2 linked regions of the Homo sapiens genome follow. The protein of the gene in region 2 purifies or fractionates together with the protein of the main gene of each other region. This does not show direct contact. Each region holds a gene or a part of one and is shown on either strand. Other genes may lie near its edges.

Region 1 (3,500 bases), on a different chromosome or scaffold from region 2:
TTCGCAGAGATTACCAACACCAGTTTTCTTGTTTGGCTAAATCTCCTTTTTAGTAGTAGGATGTCAGGCGTATTTTAATTAAATTCTAGCCATTTCTTTCAGTGATTGTGAACTGTTTTTACCACCTTAGTAGTAATAATACCTTGGATTTATGGAATACTTTTCTATCAGAGAGTTCAAAGAGCTCATATCTATAATTTCTTTTATCCTGTTAACATTTCTATGAGGGAAGGGGTACAGTTTATTATTATCACTATCTTACAGAGGGAGAAGCTGAGGTGACTTGCTTTAATGCCGTAGCTACTGTTAACTGCCAGGACTTATCTGAGAGACTCATACTTGGATGTTCTATGAAATGGAGCTGAGAATTTGAGGGCTACTTTGTGTTTTGGATATCAACAATTACCTCTTTAATTTTTTTTTAAATATAAAAATACTGTTAAAACAGTGTAACTATCCAAAGTATGTGTGTAGTGAACTATTGGATTTTTGTCCTGTTCTATTGCTCCTTCTTACTCCAAGTTTATGTATTGTCTTGATATTTTGTATGTTTATATAAATGCGTGTTTTTTTTAAAACAAGTGTAAATGAAATCATACCTATACATACATGGTTTTGCAATTGTTTTTTTCACCTGCAATATAGATACTTTTTTTTTTTAAGAGATAGGGTCTCACCCTGTCACCCAGGTTGGAGTGCAGTGGCATGTAGCTCACTGTAACCTCGAACTCCTGGGTTCAAGTGATCTTCCTGCCTCAGCCTCCTGAGAAGCTAGGACTGTAGGGGTGTGCCACCAGGCCCACCTAATTTTTTTTTTTTTTTTTTTAATTTTGTAGAAATGAGGTCTTGCTATGTTGCCTGGACTGGTCTTGAACTACTGGCCTCAAGTGATCCTCCCACCTCGGCCTCCCAGAGTGCTGGGATTACCATGCTTGGCCTAGACACTTTTCAAAATGAACTCATAATCAAGGGTTGACAGACTTTTCTGGAAAGAGCAAGTTATTAAATTGTTTAGGCTTTGAGTGCAGTCATATGTTCTTGTCATATGTTCTTTTTTTTTTTTAAACAATCTTTTACAAATGTAAAAATCATTCTTAGCTTTCTAGCTATTAATAAATAGCTGAAGTGTGGGGCCATAGTTTGCTGACCCTTGATAGATATCTGTGTCATCTATTTGTAGGATTAGAGTTTTCAGTGGTGTGTGTATGTTCGTATGTTCTATTTTGCCTTAATGAACAGTGCTGGAATGAAGGGGGAACACTTAAAGTATCCTTATCTCTTACTTTCTCTGATATGTATATTTAGTCCTTAAAACAGCTTAAGCTTTCCCTCTGAAAGTAAGGTTATTCCTGTTGTTTCTTGGTGACTGATGGCGTTTCCCATCCACAGGGTCCTAACCTGATTATAAAACAACCAGATGAGTTGCTGGACAGCATGTCAGATTGGTGTAAGGAGCATCACGGGAAGGTAACATTACCAAATAACAGGATTGCTGCTTTGGGGATCAGTAGCAAGCTTTTTGCTCCCACACCTGAATCCGATACCATTGTTGGATGGTATTTTAAAAAGGCTTAGAGAAGATTGCATGGCAAGCCTGGGAAACTGCTTGCTTGTTTACTTTTCATCTTTGGGACCTCTCGAGATCATCTTCTCCTGAATGTCCTCTTTTTTTTCTCTCCTACATTCAGTCTGTCGCGAACGCATTGTGGATTGTCAAGTATTACTCAAGTCAGTCTTTTGGATAAGGTTAGACATCAACTTTCAGAGAAGGGGGATTGCTGCTCTCCTGTTAATAGTTGTTTCTTCCCAGAGGTTAATATCCTTGGACTTTGAACACCGTCTTTTTTGACTGTGGACATGCTATTAACAGTCAGGATCATAACTAAGTTGGCTTGGATTCTTGAAGAAAAAAAAATGGTGCAAAGATGGCAGTTGCAATTTGAACTTGAGCTCTAAAAATGGTCTATTTGTGGTTATATTTGCCCATTTTAAAAGTGAAATTTCATTTCTGGATGCCTTTGAAAACTGACTTTACATGTGTTTTTGGTGGGGGGCTGGGGATTCTCTCTTGCAGTCTGGCCTTACCAAGGCAGTGAAGGAGAGTACAATTACATTGCAGCAGGCAGAGTATGAATTTCTGTCCTTTGTACGACAGCAGACTCCTCCAGGGCTCTGTCCACTTGCAGGTAAAATCCAATCCTGTGTATATCTTATAGTCTTCCATATGTAGTGGTTCAAGAGACTGCAGTTCCAGAAAGACTAGCCGAGCCCATCCATGTCTTCCACTTAACCCTGCTTTGGGTTACACATCTTAACTTTTCTGTTCAAGTTTCTCTGTGTAGTTTATAGCATGAGTATTGGGAAAATGCCCTGAAACCTGACATGAGATCTGGGAAACACAAACTTACTCAATAAGAATTTCTCCCATATTTTTATGATGGAAAAATTTCACATGCACAGAGGAGTGGATTTAGTAATTGTTAACCTTGTGTCGTATTTGTTTTACCTATTTTTTGTTGGACATTTTAAAGGAAATTGCAGGCATCAGGACACTTCATTCCTAAATACTTCATCAAACATCTCCTAAGATAAAGACATTTTCTTATGTAATACAATGTCATTGCATTGAAGATAATTAAACATTATTCAGTATCATATGATATCTAGTCCACATTAGATGTTCCCCAAAATATTTGTTTTTGAACCAGGATTCAGTCAAGGCTCGTGCATTTCATTTAGTTATATTTCTTTAGTCTCTTAATGTAAAACTTTCCACCTATTATTTTTCCCCTGTGTCATTGACTTTCTAAAGAGACCAGGCCTGTTCTACCAGGATTTTTAAAAGGGTGACATTGCCAGAGGGAAGTTAATGTTTCTCTGAAGGTATATGTACGTTTGTATATGTAAGTCGATGTGGTAGCTAATACTGTTCTTAAACATTTATAAAAATAAGTTTTGGCATTAAGTACTAGAGCATATATTGTGTAAATGTTTCCGCCAGCCAATGTGGCTGATATCTGTTTTAAAGGTCTCATTTAAAATTTAGTGTTTTTAGTATAAGTTACTTTTTGGGGACATAAATATGCATATGATTTGTTTAAAAATTTGGATTGTAAATAAAGGTTTATCTACCTATGTGATTCAGTTAAATTTTTAGTGTTAGTGGTGTGAATTTTGTGACACTGGGAGAAAGTTTGCATATCAGGTATGACCTTAGAAAGTAACAAATAGATTTGTGCATTACATCAAGCATGTGGAATGATAGATTTGTCCTTCTGTTCATGAGAGGTCATTTACAAATTTATAAGGAGCTAAACTGACTAAGTACTTGGAAATCTGTACTTGTAAGCTAATCACATTTACCCAAACCTGATTTAGAAATATAGAGGTGCTTTTAGGAATTGTTTGAATTTTAAAAAATCATCTCCATTTCAAATACAACTTATGAATTTTGATATCCTGTTGTATAATACTAGAAATATAGAGATGCAGTATGCTTC
Region 2 (3,500 bases):
GCAAAAATTAGCCAGGCATGGTGGTGTGTCCTGTAATCCCAGCTTCTCAGGAGGCTGAGGCAGAAGAATGGCTTGAACCCAGGAGGCAGAGGTTGCAGTGAGCCGAGATAGCGCTGCTGCACTCCAGCCTGGGCAACAGAGCGAGGCTCTTGTCTCAAAAAAAAAATAAAGATAGAAAATGGTTAATTTGGCCGGGCATGGTGGCTCACACCTGTAATCCCAGCACTTTGGGAGGCCGAGGCGAGGTGTTCACGAAGTCAAGAGATCGAGACCATCCTGGCCAACCAACATGGTGAAACCCCATCTCTACTAAAAATACAAAAATTAGCTGGGCATAGTGGCGCATACCTGTAGTCCCAGCTACTCAGGAGGCTGAGGCAGGAGAATCGCTTGAACCCGGGAGGTGGACGTTGTAGTGAGCTGAGATCGCGCCACTGCACTCCAGCCTGGGCGACGAGCGAGACTCTGTCTCAGAAAAAAATGATAGAGAGAGAAAGAGAGAATGGTTGATTTAAAAAGCATGCAGTTTATATAGAATAAATAAAATTGTTAATTTATGTTATATCGATCTTACTTCAATGTAAAAAACCAAGGGCTCACTCCTGTAATCTAGCACTTTGGGAGCCTGAGGCAGAAGGACCACTTAAGCTCAGGAGTTCAAGACCAGCCTGGGCAACAAAATAAGACCTCGTCTGTACTAAAAAATAAAAAAGATTAACTGGGTGTGGTGGCGCTTGCCTATAATCCCAGCTACTCAGCAGGCTGAGTTGGGAGGATCGCTGGAGCCCAGGAGGTCAAAGCTGCAGTAACCAGAGATCACACCCCTGCACTCCTAGGTGATAGAGTGAGACCCTGTCTCAAAAATAATAATAATAAAAAAATAACCCCCAGGCCGGGCGCTGTGGCTTACGCCTGTAATCCTGGCACTTTGGGAGGCCGAGGCGAGCGGATCACCTGAGGTTGGGAGTTCAAGACCAGCCTGACCAGCATGGAGAAAACCCCGTCCCTACTAAAAATACAAAATTAGCTGGATGTAGCGGCACGCACCTGTAATCCTAGCTACTCGGGAGGCTGAGGCAGTCGAATCGCTTGAACCCAAGAGGCAGAGGTTGCGGTGAGCCAAGATCGCTCCATTGCACTTGAACCTGGGCAACAAGAGCAAAACTCCGTCTCAAAAAAGTAAATAAAAATAGGACCAGGCGCGGGGGCTCACGCCTGTAATCCCAGCACTTTGGGAGGCCGACGTGGGCAGATCGCGAGGTCAAGAGATCGAGCCCATCCTGGCTAACACGGTGAAACCCTGTCTCTACTTAAAAGAAAAAAATTATCCGGGCGTGGTGGTGGGCACCTGTAGTCCCAGCTACTCAGGAGGCTGAGGCAGGAGAATGGTGTGAACCCGGAAGGCAGAGCTTGCAGTGAGCTGAGATCGCGCCACTGCACTCCAGCCTGGGTGACAGAGCGAGACTCTGTCTCTAAATAAATAAATTAATAAATAAAACCCCCAAAATGCACAGCTATCATGGCTTAGTTGAGGGTGCAGGCTGGTCAGGCTGCTTTTCCAGTGCCAGGTGTGAGCTTTCTCTTCTCATTCTTTAAATTAGGGGTCGCTGTGATGAAATTCAAGAACCCCCCAGTGAACAGCCTGAGCCTGGAGTTTCTGACGGAGCTGGTCATCAGCCTGGAGAAGCTGGAGAATGACAAGAGCTTCCGCGGTGTCATTCTGACCTCGGTAGGTGCTAGTTCAGCTCCCTACCCCAGCCCGAGTTCTTGGCCTGAGTTCTCTGATGTGAGCCCAGGCCTGTTGCACATGGAAGAGGCAGAGCCTGCCAACGTGTGGCACAGGCCAGCCGGCAGCCCCACCACCCTGGACTCCAGGCGCCTTCACGGGAGGCTTCCAGGAGCACCGTCTGGGTGTGCCCCAGCAGGGACCCAAACTGCCATGGGCCTCAAGCAGATCATTCCCAAAGGTGAAGGTGGACCAGTCTCAGAGACAGCCTTCCCAGGAGACAGCTTTCCCAAGAGACGCCCTTCCCGGGAGACAGCCTTCCCAAGAGGCAGCCCTCCTGGGAGACCGCCTTCCTGGGAGACAGCCTTCCCTGCCCGGGCCGTCGTCCAGGCGGACACTGGGGAGAGCTGTGGGCAGCGAGTGAGGGAGAGCCATGCATCTATGGGGTCACCTTGGACCCTAAGCACACCTGGTGGTGGGTTCCTGGAGTGCTCCCCACTAGGATCACTTGGGTGCCCTGAGCCAGTCCTGCGAACAATACCCATGCTCTCTGATCCTCTGTGGGCCAGTCTTCAGGGCGAGTTCTCAAGGGTGAACCTCTTTGGTCTGAGTTCTTGTGCAGGGGACTCTAAATGTTGCCTGAGTGCTGGCGAACGCTAGGCGTGTCATCTGTGGGAACGGTGTCATTACCAACATCGCCGAGGGGCAGTAAGCAGTGTCAGGCCCAGGAGGATGGGACCCTTGAGGAGAAGCGGGCATTGGCTGAGGTGAGGGGAGTGAGGGGTCCTCGGAGGCTGGCGTGGCTTTACAGGGCCTGGCCTAGAACTCCTGACCTCAAGTGATCTGCCCACCTCGGCCTCCCAAAGTGCTGGCCACGTCCAGCCTTATATATTTATTGAGACAGAATCTCCCTCTCTTGCCCAGGCTGGAGTACAGTGACGTGATCTTGGCTTACTACAACCTCCGCCTCCTGGGTTCAAGCGATTCTTGAATCTTGAAAATTTTTAAAATTTTTGGGAGAGACAGTGCCTTTATTGCCCACGTTGGTCTTGAACTCCTGGGCTCAAGCACTCCTCCCACCTCGGCTCCCCAGTGTGCTAGGATTACAGGTGCGAGCCATTGCACCTGGTTAATTTTTTTGCTTAATTTTTACTTTTTTGTACAGGCGGGGTCTTGCTATGTTGCCCAGGCTGGTCTTGAACTCCTGGCCTCAAGCAGTTCTCCAATCTTGGCCTCCCAAAGCTCTGGGATTACAGGCATGAGCCACCACGCCAGGCCTGGGTTTTGAGTAACGGAAGTAGAACGCGTTTTGTAGAAACAAAGGACCGGCCTACCCATTCTGTGCGGCACCAGCTCACACCTGTTTGGGAACAGCGGAGCTGCGTTGCCCACCCGCACCGTTCCTGGCTTTTTCACATCGCCTGAGGATGTGGAGGCCATCCCATCTGTCCCAGCCGCCTCCTCCTCGCACACATTAGGTGGCTGTCGCCCTCCTTCCTGCAGACAGGGCGGGGTAAACATCCACCCAGCTCTGCTTGTGTGAGTCAGGGTGAGCTGGGTTCAGCTGCAGGAACAAGTTCACCCACAGCCTTGGGGGGTCTGGCCCTCGGGAGGAAAACGTGCCGTGTTGTGCAGAGGGGAAGGTACCCTTGTCATTTGCTCAGGGGGCTGTGACCATGCAGGGTCCCCAGGGTGGGTTCTCCACTCCTCCCCGAGCCCGCCTCCCTGGCCGGCAGCCCTGACTGGGAGTCTGAGGCTCCTGTGCTGGCGCCCG

What was found.
Region 1: the proteins of ECI1 (region 2) and REXO2 fractionate together in Homo sapiens (co-fractionation; one large-scale study listed by BioGRID). This does not show direct contact.

What each region holds. Positions count from the first base shown.
Region 1 is NC_000011.10:114,442,467-114,445,966, forward strand, and holds part of REXO2 (oligoribonuclease, mitochondrial precursor), read left to right. Parts: intron 1-1,389; coding exon 1,390-1,467; intron 1,468-2,074; coding exon 2,075-2,186; intron 2,187-3,500. UniProt on the Homo sapiens protein: 3'-to-5'exoribonuclease that preferentially degrades DNA and RNA oligonucleotides composed of only two nucleotides. Binds and degrades longer oligonucleotides with a lower affinity.
Region 2 is NC_000016.10:2,245,088-2,248,587, reverse strand, and holds part of ECI1 (enoyl-CoA delta isomerase 1, mitochondrial isoform 1 precursor), read left to right. Parts: intron 1-1,601; coding exon 1,602-1,729; intron 1,730-3,500. UniProt on the Homo sapiens protein: Key enzyme of fatty acid beta-oxidation. Able to isomerize both 3-cis (3Z) and 3-trans (3E) double bonds into the 2-trans (2E) form in a range of enoyl-CoA species, with a preference for (3Z)-enoyl-CoAs over (3E)-enoyl-CoAs.